Regions from separate parts of the Homo sapiens genome. Here region 1 is linked to region 2. Evidence: fine-mapped expression QTL. Tissue or cell type: whole blood. Region 2 holds a variant in brackets; the other region holds the start of a gene. All regions are shown on one strand. Distances are from middle to middle.

What was found. PIP is the estimated chance that this variant, and not a neighbour inherited with it, causes the effect.
Region 1: AKR7A3 starts here. The variant in region 2 is fine-mapped to the expression of AKR7A3 in whole blood (TOPMed, PIP above 0.99).

What each region holds. Positions count from the first base shown.
Region 1 is chr1:19,285,527-19,293,526 of GRCh38, forward strand. AKR7A3 (aldo-keto reductase family 7 member A3) reads right to left here and starts at 3,244. Exons shown (of 7, transcript NM_012067.3): 1 at 2,970-3,244; 2 at 659-846; 3 at 362-466. The coding sequence starts at 3,183. LOC124903867 (a long non-coding RNA gene) reads left to right here and starts at 2,534. Exons shown (of 3, transcript XR_007065521.1): 1 at 2,534-2,834. LOC100506730 (a long non-coding RNA gene) reads right to left here. Exons shown (of 1, transcript NR_037847.1): 1 at 7,721-8,000. RefSeq lists enhancers at 2,477-3,299, 3,300-4,121.
Region 2 is chr1:19,392,063-19,400,322 of GRCh38, forward strand. The region is part of intron 2 of CAPZB (capping actin protein of muscle Z-line subunit beta); the gene reads right to left. Among named protein-coding and RNA genes, the nearest start is that of SLC66A1, 84 kb to the left of the region's middle. RefSeq lists an enhancer at 973-1,112. The variant A/G (reference allele first, on the strand shown) is at 4,465.

The DNA of each region.
Region 1 (8,000 bases), 110 kb before region 2:
GTCTCAGGGTCTTCTGGGCCCATCTAGAAAGGCTTCCAGAGGAAGAGACACGTATGTGAGACCTGAACCATTCTCTCACGGAAGGGGCGGTGGTGGGGGAAGGGCTTGTTCCAGGCTGAGTGCAGGGGAAGGTAGGGAAGGAAGGGTCCAAGGTGCACAGATAGGCAGGAAGGAAGCAGATGCCCAGTGGCCAGCCTGAGGAGCTTGAATGGCATCCTGAGGGTACCTGGGAGCCATCTGCAGGCTTTCAGCAGGGGAGTGGCTGCTATGCAGAGGGCACAGGGGGCAGTCAGAGGGGCAAAGACAGCCCAGGATGAGCAGGAGTTCTGGAGACCTTGGCCTCTGCAGCCCTGGCTCTCACCTGGTACACAGTGGGCAGGATCCAGCCGTTGCTCTTGCAGAGGGTACAGATCTCGGCCACTTCCCAGGCTGCATAGTTGGAGAGGCCAAGCTCCACGAACTTGCCCTGCTCAGGTGAGGCTCCAGTCAGAACATAGTGCAGCCCAGACCAGGAAAGGGAGGCCAGGGTGGGGCCCCTGGGAGTTGGGCTGTTCCCTGCTCCACCCTGGAACAGCCCTGGTGCCTCTGCTCTCACCATTAGGATCAGGATAAGGAGAGCAGCAGTGGACCACCTCCCAGAGCTCAGGGGTCCCCTCACCTCCTGGTGCAGCTGGTGGCAGGCACGCAGTGTCTCTTCCACCGGGGTGCTGTGGTCTGGCATATGCAGGTAGAAGAGGTCCACTCGGGGACACTGCAGCCGCTTCAGTGACGTCTCCAGCTGGAACCGGAGACTGTCAGGCTTCAGGGAGTTCCCAAACAGTGGAATGGCCTTGGTATCAATTTTCACTGAGAGGAAAGAGAAATGAAATTCAGGGCCAGGCGCCGTGGCTCATGCCTGTAATCCCAGCACTTTGGGAGACTGAGGCAGGCAAATCAGAAGGTCAGGAGTTCAAGACCAGCTGGACCAACATGGTGAAACCCCATCTCTAATAAAAACACAAAAATTAGCTGGGCATAGTGGAGCCCGCCTGTAGTCCCCAGCTAGTCCGGAGTCTGAGGCAGGAGAATTGCTTGAACCCGGGAGGCGGAGGTTGCAGTGAGCCGAGATTGTGCCACAGCACAATGTCTCACAGAGTGAGACTTCTCAAAAAACAAACAAACAAACAAAACAAACAACAAAAAAAAAGAATCTTAGTTCCTAGTGAACTGGACTAACAGGTGAGTGGAGAGTCCTCTTCCCACTTTTCACACTTAGAAAGTCACCTAGGCTGGCAGGAGGGCAGTCACTGGAGCCCTTGAGGCCTAGCAAAGAGCAGGTTTGAGGAACTATTCATATGGAATTTTTCCATTCCACCACCACCCCTCTGCTTCTCAATTGAATTTAACTTCAGATCAGATCTGAGGACTTTCGCCAGCCAACCTTGGACTCAGACAGAAGACAAAGAAGGATTAAAAAAGGAAAGAAAAAAAAATCAGAAATAAGGGCCAGGCAGAGGGTACAGATCTGTGGTGGCTCACACCTGTAATCTCAGCACTTTGGGAGGCCAGAGCAGGAGGATCACTTGAGCTCAGGGGTTTAAGACCAGCCTGGGCAACAAAGTGAGACTCCAGTTTCAATGAATAATACAAAAAATTAGCCGGGTGTGGTGCTACTGTAGTAGTCCCAGCTACTCAGGAGACTGAGGTGGGAGGATGGCTTGAGCCCTGAGAGGTCAAAGCTGCAATGAGCCCTATCGCACCACTCCACTCCAGCCTGGGCAAAAAAGCAAGACCCTGTCTCAAAAAAAAAAAAAAAATCAGAAATATGGTTAGAGCTCTCACTGAGTGGCAGCCGGGTGATCTAGAAAGAGCGTGGCACTGGGATGCACGCACAGGCCAGGTTCGTTCTGGATCTACCATGTGGTGAATCAGAGGAGAAATAAGACTCCACTCAGACACTCAGTGGAAGGAGGCAAATGGTGCTAATACTAAGAACAAACAAACAGCTAACATTTCCCAGCCCTCACTATGTGCCTGCCAGGCATCGGCCTAAGCACTGCAAATGGCATCAGACTGAGGGCGGCTCCTCCTGCCCCTATACACACATCCTCCCCTCCGGCCACACCTGCCTCCTCCAGCACCCGCGGCATTGCCAAAACACATTTGCCTTTCCACACCCATGCCCACTGCCCTGACGCCCTTGCCCCTTGTACTCTTCCTGGCAAACTCCTATCCATTCTTTCTTCACGGGGTCCCTCCCAGGAAGGGGTCACTCTGGGCTCCCCAGCCATCTCTAGAACTGGAGCTTCCTGGAGTGGGTTAGTGTCCATTTCTCTCCAATAGCCTCCGACAGAGCCTCCCACAGAGAGGGCAGTGAGACTCTGTACCACCCCAATCCCTCATCCCCCTGAGGGAGCTGCCAAGGCTTCCGGGCACTGCCACCCTTGTGAGGTGCCCTTGTGAGTACCACAAGGTACTCAGAGCAAAGTCCGGGGCCCCGAGCAGGCTGGCATGTGCAAAGGAGGAAGCAGATAGTGTGCTGGGTCCAAACTCTGATTTTGGACTGTGCCAGGGAGTGCCAGGCGGTAAGAACAGAATTTCTGCAGATCAGGCCCGTCAAGGGCACCTGGAGGGCACAGGTGGGGACAGGAGCTGCACAATGCCAGATCCCAGTGTTTTTTGTGCTCCAGAGAGGGGCTAGCCAAGTCATTCCAGGCAAGACCAAGTCATCCAGGCGTCAGTGAGGGTGCTGGCTACCTCCCGGAAGAGAAGAGAGACGAACAGAAGAGAAGACGAGAGAAAAGTTGTCCGGAGCTAGACGTGCCTAAGGAGCCTGGTGTTCCCAAGGCTGCGAGGTGAACAGGGGTGGGGGCGGTGGGGGGGACAAAACTTTGGGTGCTGCCCCGGGGCCAGGGAGAGCGGGGCGGTACACGGCTGTGGACAGGCTCAGCTCTGCACCGTGCAGGGGGAGGATCAGGGGCCACTGTTACCTCTGCAGTCGCTGCCGCCCAGCCGGAGCCCCAGGCCGCCAAGGATGGTCTCGGACTGGCCCTCGCTGTACACGAAGGCCGTGTCTATCTCGGTGTGGCCGCGCTCCAGGAAGGCGCGCGTGACTGCGGCGCTGGTGGGCGCGTCCATGCGGCGCCCCATCTCCATGGCGCCCAGCACCGTGGCTGGCCGGGCCCGCGACAGCTGCCGGGACATGACGGCGGCAACGGGAGACTGTGACAGCCCAGGAGCCGCGCGCAGCGGTCGGAAGCACCAGGCTCGGAGCGGGCGGCCTCGTGGCTTTAGAGACGGGCTCGGGCCCCGCCCACCGGCGGGTGCAGCTGAGGGCGCGGCCGAAGGTGCCCGACGCCGCCCACGAGCTCGACTCCACGCTCGGCTACTAGGACCTTCTGCACTTGCACCGAGCAAGCAGCGAAATGGCTGTGGCTTCGTACCGGTGACTCGCGTCTTGGAGATTTTAACACTCCTCAACGTCCCCAAGGGTGAGGGGGTCCAAGGGTGGCGACTATCCCAAAAGGCGGGGACTCTTCGGGCCTCCCTGCCCCGTCGTCCCTCCTTCCTCGGCCTTGCCCCGGAGCTGTCCTGGGTTTCTGTCTCCTCCCGGAGGGAGCGCTTACGGGGTGGGGTGGACCTAGGGCTGTCGCGCCTGCCGTGTGGTCCTGGAGAATGAGGCTTACCAAAGGCTCAAGACAGCGTCCCCATGGAGTGACATGGTTAAAGTGTTGAAAGAAAAGAACTGTTGGCATTGAATTCTGTACCTAAGTGAAAAAAAACTGACTGGCTCTGGTGACTTAACGCCTGTAATGCCAACACTTTGAGAGATCAAGGCAGGAGGATCACTTGAGCCCAGGAGTTTGAACCCAGCCTGGGCAACATAGGGAGGCCCTGTCTCAAAAGAAAAAAAAAAAGATAGAAAAATGGACCAGTGCCCAGCGGCAGTGAGCTGTGATAGCTCTACTGCACTCCACCCTGGGTGACAGAGGGCAAATCTGTCTCCAAATACAAAAGAAAAAAAAAGACCAATAGACAGATGGAACAAATGAAAAACCAATAGCAAAATTGATTTAAACCCAATCATATCAATAATTACATAAATATAAATGATGTAAATGCTCACAAGTAAAAGGCAGTGATTGTTAGAATGGATAAAAAAGCAAAACCAAACTATATGGTAAATACCAGAAAGCTATTCAAATATAAAAGCAGAGATAGTTTAAGAGCAAAAAGATGGGAAAAGACATACACTGACAAAACTAAATTTTAAGAAGTTGGAATGGCTAAGTGAATATCAGACAAAGTAGATTGCAAAACAAAGAATACTGGCCCACACAGTGGGTGACATACTAGCCCACACCTGTAATGTTAGCACTTTGGGAGCCTGAGAAGGGAGGATTGCTTAAGTCCAGGAGTTTGAGACTAGCCTGGGCAACACAGGGAGATCTTATCGCTACAACAAAATTTTAAAAATTATCAAATTGTGGTAGCATGCACCTGTGGTCCCAGTTACTTGGGAGGCAGAGGTGGGAGAATCATCTACGCCTGGGAGGTCGAAGCTGCAGATTGAGACCCTGTCTCAAAACAGCAACAACAACAACAACTACCAAAGACAAAGAGGGACATACCATAATGACAAAGAGGTCAATTAATAAAGAAGATATAATTCTAAATATATATGCACCTAAGCATAGATCATCAAAATACATGAAAAACAATAATGGAACTAAAGAACAAGTAGATAAATACAAAATTATAATTGGAGATTTCAACACACCATTCTCAATAGTTGTAGAACAGTTATCAGTCATAATTTACGGAAACTCCGTAAAGGTATACAAGACTCAATGCTATGAACCAATTCCACATAAACAACATGAATAGAATATCCAACAACAGCAGGATATGCATTCTTTTCAAGTGCCCATCCACCAAGATATACCATATTTGGAGGCATAAAACAAGTCTTAATAAATGTAAAAGAGGCTGGGAGCGGTGGTTCACGCCTGTAATCCCAGCACTTTGGGAGGCCAAGGCATGTGGATTAACTGAGGTCAGGAGTTTGAGACCAGCCTGGCCAACACAGTGAAACCCCGTCTCCACTAAAAATACAAAAATTAGCTAGGCGTGGTGGCGTGCCCCTGTAATCTCAGCTACTCAGGAGGCTGAGGCAGGAGAATCACTTAAACCTGGTTGGTGGAGAGTGCAGTAAGCCGAGATCAGGCCATTGCACTCTAGCTTGGGCAACAGAGTGAGACTCCATATTAAAAATAAATAAATAAATAAATAAATAAATTTGAAAGGATTCCAATCATACAAAGTACATCTCTGAACACGATGGAATTAAACTAGAAAATAATAACACAGGCTGGGTGCGGTGGCTCACACCTTTAATCCCAGCACTTTGGGAGGCCAAGGTGGGCAGATCACTTGAGGTCAGAAGTTCAAGACCAGCCTGTCCAATATGGTGAAACCCCATCTCTACTAAAAATACAAAAAAATTAGCCGAGCATTGTGGTGTGTGCCTGTAATCCCAGCTACTCAGGAGGCTGAGGCAGGAGAATTGCTTAAACCTGGGAGGCGGAGGTTGCAGTGAGCCAAGATCGCACCACTGCACTCCAGCCTGGGTGACAGAGAAAGACTCTACCTCAAAAAAAAAAAAAAAAGAAAGAAAGAAAAAAAGAAAAGAAAAGAAAAGAATAACAGAATTTAGAGCCTGAGAGGGAACTGAAAATAAGTAAATAAGTTAACAAATAGAAGAAAAAGGAAAAATAGAAAATAATAATGGAATGATATCTGGAAAATCCCCACATATTTAGAAATTAAATAACCCATGGGTCAAATATGTAATCACAAGGAAAATTAGATCATATTTTGAACTGAATGAAAGTAAAAACAGGACATATCAAATTTTCTGAGATGCAGCCACAGTAGTGCTATGAGGGAAATTTATAGCACCACTTTGACATATTACAAAAGAAGAAATATTTCAGATCAATAATGTAAGCATTTACTTTTTTTTTTTTTTTTTTTTGAGACACAGTCTCACTCTGTCACACAGGCTGGAGAGCAGTGGTGCAATCTCAGCTCCCTGCAACCTCAGCCTCCTGGGTTCAATCAATTCTCATGTCCCAGTTTCCTGAGTAGTTGGAATTACAGGCATGCACCACCATGCCCGGCTAATTTTTGTATTTTTAGTAGAGAAGGGGTCTCACCATGTTTGCCAGGCTGGTCTTGAACTCCTGGCTTCAAGGGATCCTCTCGCCTCAGCCTCCCAAAGTGCTGGGATTACAGGTGTGAGCCACTGCACCGGCCGAGGCTTGTACTTTAAGAAACCACAAAAGGAAGAGTCAAGTAAAACCAAAATTAGCAGAAGAAAGGAAATAATAAAAATAATAGCCAAAATAGGCTGATGTGGGAGAATCGTTTGAACCCGGGAGGCAGAAGCTGCAGTGAGCCAAGATCACTCCTCTGCACGCCAGCCTGGGAAACAGAGCAAGACTCCATCTCAAAGAAAAAAAAAAGCCAAAATAAATGAAATATAAAACAAAAACATCAGCAAAAGTCAGTAAAACCAGAAGTAGTTCTATAAACACATCGCTAAAGTTGATAAACCTCTGGCTAGACTGATCAGGAATAAAAGAGAGAATACACAGATTAACCACACCAGAAAGAGCAGAAGAGACACCACTACAAATTATACAAATTTATCATTTTAAGTGATATTTAAATGTCATTAAATGACATTAAATGACATTTTAAATGACAATAGGGTAGATTATTAAAACCTTTATGTGAATACATTTAGTAAGTTAGATGAAATGGACAATTTCCTTGAAAAACACAAACTACCAAAGTTTATGTTTGGAAAATGAGTAAGGAATGTGTTTGGAAAATGAGTAAGGAAAAATGAGACAGCCGGGCGCAGTGGCTCATGCCTGTAATCCCAGCACTTTGGGAGGCCGAGGCAGGCAGATCACTTGAGGTCAGGAATTGGAGACCAGCCTGGTCAACATGCTGAGACCCCATCTCCACTAAAAATCCAAAAATTAGCTGGGTGTGGTGGTGTGTGCCTATAATCAGTTACTTGGAAGGCTGAGGCAAGGAGAAACGTTTGAACCCAGGAGGCAGAGGTTCCAGTGAGCCAAGATCATACCACTGCACTCCAGCCTGGGCGACAGAGCCAGGCCCCGTCTAAAAAAATAAAAAAAACAACAACCTGAATTTTTTTTTTTTCTTAAGACAGGGTCTTGCTTTGTCTTCTGAGTTCAATGGTGCAATCATAGCTCACTGCAGCCTCAACGTCCTGGGCTCAAGCGATCCTTCTGCCCAAGCCTCCCAAGTAGCTGGGACTACAGGTGCACCTCAATACACCTGGCTAATTTTGTAAAAATATTTTTGTAGAGACAGGGTCTCGCTATATTGCTCAGGCTGGTTTCAAACTCCTGGGTTCAAGTATTCTTCCTGCCTCACCCTCCCAAAGTGCTGGAATTACAAGTGTGAGCCATCTCGTCTAGCCCAGATATTGAATTCTTGATAAAAAAAAATATTTCCACAAAGAAAACTCCAGGTCTACATGGCTTCATTGGACACTTAAGGAAGAAACAACATCAATTCTGGACAAATGTTTCTAGTATATAGAAGAGGAGAGGTCACTTACCAACTCATCTTGAAGCTAGCATTACCAGATACCAAATGACACAAAGATGTTACAAGAAAAGAAACTACACACATATCCTTCATGGATCTAGACACAAAATCCTCTTTATTTTTTTCAAAAATCCTTTTAAAATTTAGCAAAATGAATACAGTAGTAAATACAAACAATAATGCACCATGACCAAGTTAGTTTCATCCCAGGAATACAAGGTTGGCTTAATATTTTAAAATCAATCAATATAATTTACTATACTAACAGGCTATAAGACAAAACCCATATCACCATCTCAATAGATGCAGAAAAAGCATTTGACAAAATTTAATACCTATTCATGAAAGGAAAATAAACCTCTCAGCCA
Region 2 (8,260 bases):
ATCCCAGCTACTCAGGAGGCCGAAGCAGGAGAATCACTTGAATCTGGGAGATAGAGGTTGCCGTGAGCCAAGACTGTGTCACTGCACTGTAGCCTGTGCGACACAGAGAGACTCTGTCTCAAGGTAAAAAAAAAAAAAAAAAAAGAGGCAGGAAGCGAACCTGCAGGAGACGACAGAAGGGGGTTGCTGTGGGGGCAAGTCAGCAGTCTAGGAGGTGGCACAGAGATGACATGTGAATAATGACCAAGGAGCCGGCCCTCCAAGACTGCAGGGAAAAATAACAGGGGCATCCCAAGAAGAGGGAAGAGCTGGCATGAGGCTCTGCTGCAGAGGCCACTGAGGCAAGTGCAAGAACAGAGAGGAGCAAAGCGCGGCTGGAGTGAGACCCAGTGAGGCAGCACGCAGCACCTCCTGGGTCACTCCAAGTGTGAGGGCAGGCCCTGGCACACTGCTTTTCTTAAGAATTAAAAAAAAAAAAAAAAAAAGGCCAGCTGCGGTGGCTCGCTTGAGATCAAGAGTTCGAGACCAGCCTGGGCAACAGGGCAAGACTCCGTCCCTACTAAAATAATAATAATAAAAATAGCCAGGCATGGTGGCATGTTCCTGTAGTCCCAGCTACTCAGGAGGCTAGGGTGGGAGGATTGTTTGAACCCGGGAAGTCGAGGCTGCAGTGAGCCGTGTTTGCACCACAGTACTCCAGCCTGGGTGACAGAGTAAGAACCTGACTCAAGAAAAAAAGTGTTTACTTATGTATAATAGGTAATACATTCACATAGGTCAGAATTCAAAAAGGTACAAGAGCACATGCTGGGAAAGGCCTCCCAGTGAGGGCCTGCAAGCTGGCTGTCCTCGCCTAGGGAGATGGCCTCCAGGTCAGGATCCCTTCAGTGGGGCTCCCTTCACCGGTCTGTCCAGATGGACACATGGCCTCCACCAGCCTATGAGAGATGCAGGAATCCCCACCCCACCACCACTACTTAGTGTAGAGAAAACACAAGCCTGCTCCCCAACTCCCCAAGGGCAGCTTCGTTACAGGGACCCCAGTTTGTCATTAGGAACACTGAGCCACGGAAGCACAGCTTCATGTAGCCGAGGCTGGAGCTTCCGACCCATTTTGCCTAATGGCTCTCTGAGCATGGCCACCTCTGCAATGAGAAGGCACCTGCACAGGCGGCAGCTTCGCGCCGGGCCTGAAAGTCACACCCGGGTGGCCAAGCTTGTTTTTGGACGGGAAGCAGCTGTGCTCCCAGAGACTCAGGCAAGTGGTACCCCTGAGTAACCAGAGGGGGACCCCAGGGGCTCCCGCTCACCCCAGGAAGCATCAAAACATATCTCCTTAGGATAATAGCCACGTGAGCTAGGGTATGGCGCACCTATTCGGAGGCAGGATTGAGGGCACCCCCCAACCTGTGGATGAGAAAACCCAGGCACGGGGAAGCTGCTGGCCCCGGCTGTCCCAGCCAACACGAGGTGGAGAGGAATGAGAATCTCAATTTGAGACTGACCCAGCTCTTCCAAAGACCAGGCCCCACCGGGTCAACAAGGCGAGCTGCCCCCATCCCCAGTCAGGCTCAGGGGACAGGGGAGGAAAAAAGAATAGAATTGGGGGAATTATGGGACTGTGAGGACCAAAGCTTTTTCCCCCAAGTGCCCGGTCACGGCAGACCCAAGGTGCCTGGGGTCGCCTGGGAAGGGCTGCAGGGCTGGGCTCTCCTGCCCCTCACCACAGCCCACAGCCCACAGCAGATCCGACATGTGACCTTTCCACTCTGGGCCTCGGGGACTCCTGGCGTGTGGGCAGGGGCTCAGTGCCTACTGCCCAGCAGAGCCTAGTGAGAAACTGGCCCCCCGCCTGCCAGGGCCACACACAAGAGGACACTTCCAGGTCCAGCCTCTCTCCTCTTTAAGAAGTCACTTGGCGCTGAGGGCCATATTTTTTTGTTTTGTTTTGTTTTTGAGACGAAGTCTCGCTCTGTTGCCCAGGCTGGAGTGCAGTGGCGCGATCTCGGCTCACTGCAACCTCTGCCTCCCAGGTTCAAGTGATTCTCCTGCCTCAGCCTCATGAGTAGCTGGGATTATAAGTGTGCACCACCATGCCCAGCTAATTTTTATATGTTTATAGAGATGGGGTTTCACCATGTTGGCCAGGTTGGTCTCAGGTGATCCGTCCTCCTTGCCCTCTCAAAGTGCTGGGATTACAGGCATGAGCCACCGCGCCTGGCCAAGGGCCATATTCTTTAAGTGCAAGCACAGCCTGCTTTCTTCCTGTGAAGGCTGTAAGTTGTAAGATGCACCAGTAATTATAACATCGCTAAGTGTACACATTAAGTGTAAGAAGCAATTTCCCAATTTTGGCAACATTAAAACGCAAGCGATGGCTGGGCACAGTGGCTCACGCCTGTAATCCCAGCACTCTGGGAGGCTGAGGTGGGCGGATCACCTGAGGTCAGGAGTTTGAGACCAACCTGGCCAACATAGTGAAACGCTGTTTCTACTAAAAATACAAAAATTAGCCGGGCGTGGTGGCGCAGGCCTGTAATCAGCTACTTGGGAGGCTGAGGCAGAATTGCTTGAATCCAGGAGGCGGAGGTTGCAGTGAGCAGAGATCGCGCCACAGCACTTCAGCCTGGGTGACAGAGCAAGACTCTGTCTCAAAATACAAAACAAAACAAAACAAACAAACAAAAAAAGTGAGCAAGCCACGCAACATAGATTTGAGATAATGGTACATACAGCACATCTGGCGGAGTAACACAGATGTTTCTGACTTAAGATTTTTTTGATTCTGCGATAGTATTCAGTAGAAGCTGTAGTTTGAATTTTGATCTTTTCCTGGGCTAGCGATGCACGGTCTGATCCTCCCTCATGACGCAGGGAGACAGCAGCTCCCACAGCTCCCCACAAGCCCTGTGATCAAAAAGGTGAGCGATGACACTCTACAGCCACCGCGCGCCAGGTGCTTTCACCAAACTGTAGGTGTGTTCTGAGCACATTTAGGGTCAGCCAGCCTAAGCCACGACGCTTGGCAGGTTAGGGGGATTAAAAGCATTTTCTACTTCCAGTGGATTTTTCGTCACGTAACCCCTTCGAGGGTGCAGCAGCATCTGTACCTGCTCATATGAGGCACATGACTCAAGGCGGGGGTTGTGGTTGGTTACCTAGGGTTTAATACAACTGAGGCTGGCCGAGAGGGCCAACATTAGGAAGCCATTTTTGACCAACAAATGATTTATTCTACTTAGAAATGAGTCTTCCACATGCCATTAACAACAAAGAGCTTTTTCAGGAAACGGTAAGTCCCCTCCATCTCTTTCTTTTCTCAGACAGGTGCCCTGACCATCCAGAGATAAATAATAAACAAAAGCAGGCCTCCTGGGCTCGCTTTCAGCCATTCATACTCCAAACCCCAAAGCTTTGCCCTCTGGAATCTCACAGCCTGGAAGGGGCCACAACGGTTTCCTAAAGAAAGGGTCAGGAAGGGGCAGAACAAAGAAGACAAATGGAAAGGAGAAATGAAAATCACTACATTTGGGTCAACCACAGGCACACACAAGGCTCCTGTTGTCCACATGTAACCTTAAGCTTCCCTGAAGGGGATGAACCAGGCCCTCGGAGCCTAATTAAATGAACCATTTCCTGGCCAGGCACACAACCCATCACCTGTGTGCAGAGAAGCCAGGGTCTCTCTAAGCTCCCGGCTGCTTTTAATTAAGGACTCGTCCCTGAGAGATGAAGCACAACATACAAAACCACCTTCGAGTCACCAGAATGGAAGTCATCTTGGACTTAGTGCTGAGAACTGCCTGCAGCCGGCCAGCCAGCCGGCAGGAGAAGCTGCCGCCTACAGCCAGGCGATGGCCTCAGGCTAAGGAGCACAGGGAGGCTCCCCTGACTCAGGCTTGCCCCACACCCAGCATCCTGCATGTCTATCCAGACCACCTTTCTTCCCCGTGTTCCACCTAAGTCATCCTTCAGGGTCTGATTCGGCCACGCCTGCCTCTTCCACTGCAACCTCCCAAAGCCGCGACGGCAGAGGCCGTTGCCCCGCCTCTACTCCTGCACCCTGTGCAGGATGCGGTCTTGAGCCTCACAGGTTTGTGACATGCATGTGTCTCCCCAGGGCAGTGATGAGCTGTCTGGACGGCCTCATGCCCGGCTTGATGCTGGCAGGACTTCTGAAGCGTTGGTGGGATGGTGTGGGATGGTGGAAAACTAGGGCCACTTGGGTCAGGTTCTGATCTTTTGAAGCCCAAGCCTGCCTTGGTGGGAAGCAAGTTCTCAGCACTCTTCAGCACCTCCCTTAAAGGAGGGACTATTCTTCGGTGAGTGGGAGACAGACCGAAACTTGACGTGGATGGCATTTCATCTTCCTGACTGCCAGCCCTGAGTTGGATGAAGGTGTGCACCCACTGGGCGTGGGCTGCCGCCTGCTGTGGAGCTGCCGCTGCCCCTCGTACCCTACAC[A/G]GGCTCCTCCTAAAGCCAGACCCGCAGCCTTCCCAGCATGAAGGCAAGCACGGGGTAGCTGCTGTTCTCTTCCCGGACGGTCCTCAGTCCTCGGTCCAGCTTTCTCAGTCCACATTTTTATTAAGGATTATTGGCCAGACGCAGTGGCTCATGCCTGTAATCCCAGCACTTTGGGAGGCCGAGGCAGGAGGATCACTTGAGGCCAGGAGTTCGAGACCAGCCTGACCAACACGGTGAAACCCCACCTCTAATAAAAATACAAAAAAAAAAAAAAAAAGAAATTAGGCACTGTGGCGAGCACCTGTAATCCCAGCTACTCAGGAGACTAAGGGAGGAGAATCGCTTGAACCTGGGAGGCGGAGGGTGCAGTGAGCCGAGATGGCGCCACTACACTCCAGCCTGGGTGACAGAGAGGACTCTGTCTCAAAAAATTAAAAAAAAAAAGATTATCGTATTGGCTTGTATTCTTCTGTCACCTGAAATCTTTTTGGGAAAAGACCAGGTAAAAATACACAAACATAACTCATATATAAGTTGATTTTTCTCCAAAGACACTGTAATTTCACAGAGGATCTCTGTCCTCTCGTTTAAGTGAAAAGATACATAGTGAAACCAAATTTTTGTTCTCGTCAACATTTTAATGAAACATTATTCAAGGGCCTGCTGTAGGTCATAATTCCCAAGAACCTATGGACAACATTAAGTGAGGACTTACTGAACTATCAAAGTTATGATTGGAATAACAGCAAAGATGTTTAGGTCTTACCATTTAAAAGGCATGTAACACACATCCTCATTTTATCATCACAGCAACCCTGCAGAAGGCAGGGGTGTTATTATCCCACATTACTGTTTACAGGTGAAAAAAAGAGGCACAGGTAGGTTAAGCAACTTGGCTATGGTCACACAGCAGGTAATTCAATGAAAGCCATGCGATCCCACCCTAAGGCCGTGCGGACTCTAGAATGACACCTGGTGAGTAACCTAGCAGGCAAAATAATTCAGCTGAAAGAGTCACCAGCTGGATGGTGGCAGAGAGAAGTACTTGGCAAGATTGGTTTTTCACACAAGGTCAACGCGAACGGAACCTCTCATACCAGCCACCTACTAGGGTACAGCATCAAGACCTAATTTCAGGGAGGGAAATGGGAAATGCATCCATTTCATCATCACTGGATACTAAGGGTTAGGCCTGGCCTCAGGCTTTATAAACCACATGTGTGCCAAATGTCCACGTCTAAACCTAGAGTTTAGGGTGAAAACTATGAATGGGCTACCATGGAAGTTACAAAATAAGAATGCAGGGGGAAGCCTGAGGGCGCGCGCCACCCGAATGCGGGAGGAGCCAGATGGGGCAGCATAGGAAGGGCTGTTCTTTACCACTGATCTGGGGGGCTCATGATCGCCCAGAGGGACAGACCAACAGCATCGGGGTCTGTGGGTTGATATTCATCTGCACGTCGACACTGGTGGGGATGCCAGGGAAATCTCACATGTTCTGTTTAGCAGAAACGAGACACCTGAGGCAGAAAGTGACAATAAGGAGTCACACGGCCAGGCAACCATGGGCAATGGCAACGCAGGGGATACTTTAGAATCTGAAAGCCTGTGAAACACCCTCAAGTCCGAGAGGATCTGCTCCATGATGAGGAACTCCGTGACCTCCAGGGCCCACACACGGAGGTGAGCCACAGTCATCCTGCCACACCTGCTCAGTCTCCCGATGAGCCAGGCGAGGTGCTGAGCCCTGTACTCCTCGCCCCAGGGGTCCTGATAGCCCCTTGGGAGGCGAATGACCTTTGAAGCCACAGCAGAGGCTGACCAGCTCAGAGCACGGAGCCACTGAGTCAGAGGGCGGAGGTCTGGCTTCCTCCAACAGATTCTCCAAAAATCCTCACGATCACAAGCTTCTAAACCTCCATGACCTACCATGATTCCAGTAATACTTCTGTTTCCCTTCAAGTGGGAGTGTTTGTGCCATGTTTACGTGTCTGAGTGGGGGAGCGGGTGCTAAGGCAGACTCAACAAGTCGGGTTGCTTCGCTGTTCTCAGCACAAAAGTCACCCAGGCTGTCTGGCCACAATGTTTCACACTGGATTCCTTCCACTGGAGGGATGTCTCATCAGGTTTTGCTGTAATTTCACTGAGTCACCCATAGAAACGACCAAGCAGGGGAGACTGGAGGGGACATCTCCAGGGGGCCACATCTGAGCTGAGTTACAGAAAGTGAGGCAGGGCTGGCAGTTAGGGCAGGTCGCAAAGCAGCCCAAGGACTAAGGTGCAGACAGAGAGCATCTCTGTCTGTCAAAGGCAGACAGCGTGGGATGCCGAATGCTGATAGCTGCACAACTCTTTTTTTTTTTTTTTGTCACCCAGGCTGCAGTGCAATGGAGCGATCTCGAGTACCGCAACCTCCGCCTCCCAGGTTCAAGCAAGTCTCCTGCCTCAGCCTCCCGAGTAGCTGGGACTACAGGTGCTTGCCACCATGCTTGGCTAATTTTTTTATTTTTTAGTAGAGACAGGGTTTCACCATGTTGGTCAGGCTGGTCTTGAACTCCTGGACTCAAGTGATCCGCCTGTCTTGCCCTCCCGAAGTGCTGGGATTACAGGCATGAGCCACCATGCCCAGCTAGCTGCACAACTCTTGCGTGTGCTAAAAACCATTGGACCGTACACTTTAAAAGTGTAAATGTTATGTTATGTGAATTATATCTCCAGAAAGCTGTTGTTAAGAAGGTGAATCAAGAGAGGATATTTTAGGCAGAGAGAACCACATGGATCCAAGACATCACAGGTAGACATCCAGGAAACCAACAGTTTCAGAATACGAGTACGTCATGTGACCCAGAGTTAGGTTGGTAAAAAGTGACCCTGGGTGTCAGGAACCATGGGCAGTGTTGTCTTTCTCCTCACTCTCAGTCGTAGCTGTTTGACTCTTCACTCTTACTACCCAGAGCTTTTCCTACATCAAAATAAACCAAGGTACTGCAGGGACTTGCCACTGGCCTGGAAGTCAGAGCTGGTTCTGCCATGAAACGGTGCTACATGGGGCATGGGCCACAGCTCCCTGGTCTCTGCAATGGATGGTTCTCTGAGAGAGGAGCACTTTGAGGGCTGTGAGTACAGAGGGAGGAGCTCAGGGTGTCAAGAGTGGGAGAGGAAGTCTGGGCCTACCACCTTCTACCTGGTTTATTCAAGTTCTAAGATTTTGCTTAAAAAAAGGGCTGTACCAATTTTCCAAATGTTTGAAAACCACTAGATGAGATAATCGGTAAGGTTCATTTTAGTGTTGACATCCTACGAAGTTTCATAGTTCAAGACTTGAGAGTTACTCAAAAGTTTGTGTCATCCCTCCTAAAACAAACCTTTACTAAGCAAGGTACTCTGAGGCTCAAACCAACTGTGGACTGCCCAGCTCTTCGGTTCACAGCCTTAGGACACAGATGCAAGCAGCTGAGTGAGTTATTCACAAGAAGGGGAAGAAGGAAAAGGCTTGGAACCCATAATCTTCTCCCCTGAATGCCATGTTCAAATTTAAACTCTTAGGGAATTTCTATATTTGTATACAGAATCCAAATTCCCTTCTCTTTTCTCTTCCAGGAGAGATTCCGAGCCCACCCCTTGCCTGCCTCCGAGACCTCAACACCATCCTGCTTACTAAAGGGAGCCCAGTTTTTCCCGCTACCCATGGCACAGGTCTTCGTCAATTTCAGTGTGCCCTTCATGAATCTGGCATGTGGTCACTGGCAGTTAAAGGGGGTGATGATGGAGAGGAGAAACCCCAGGCTCCAACTAC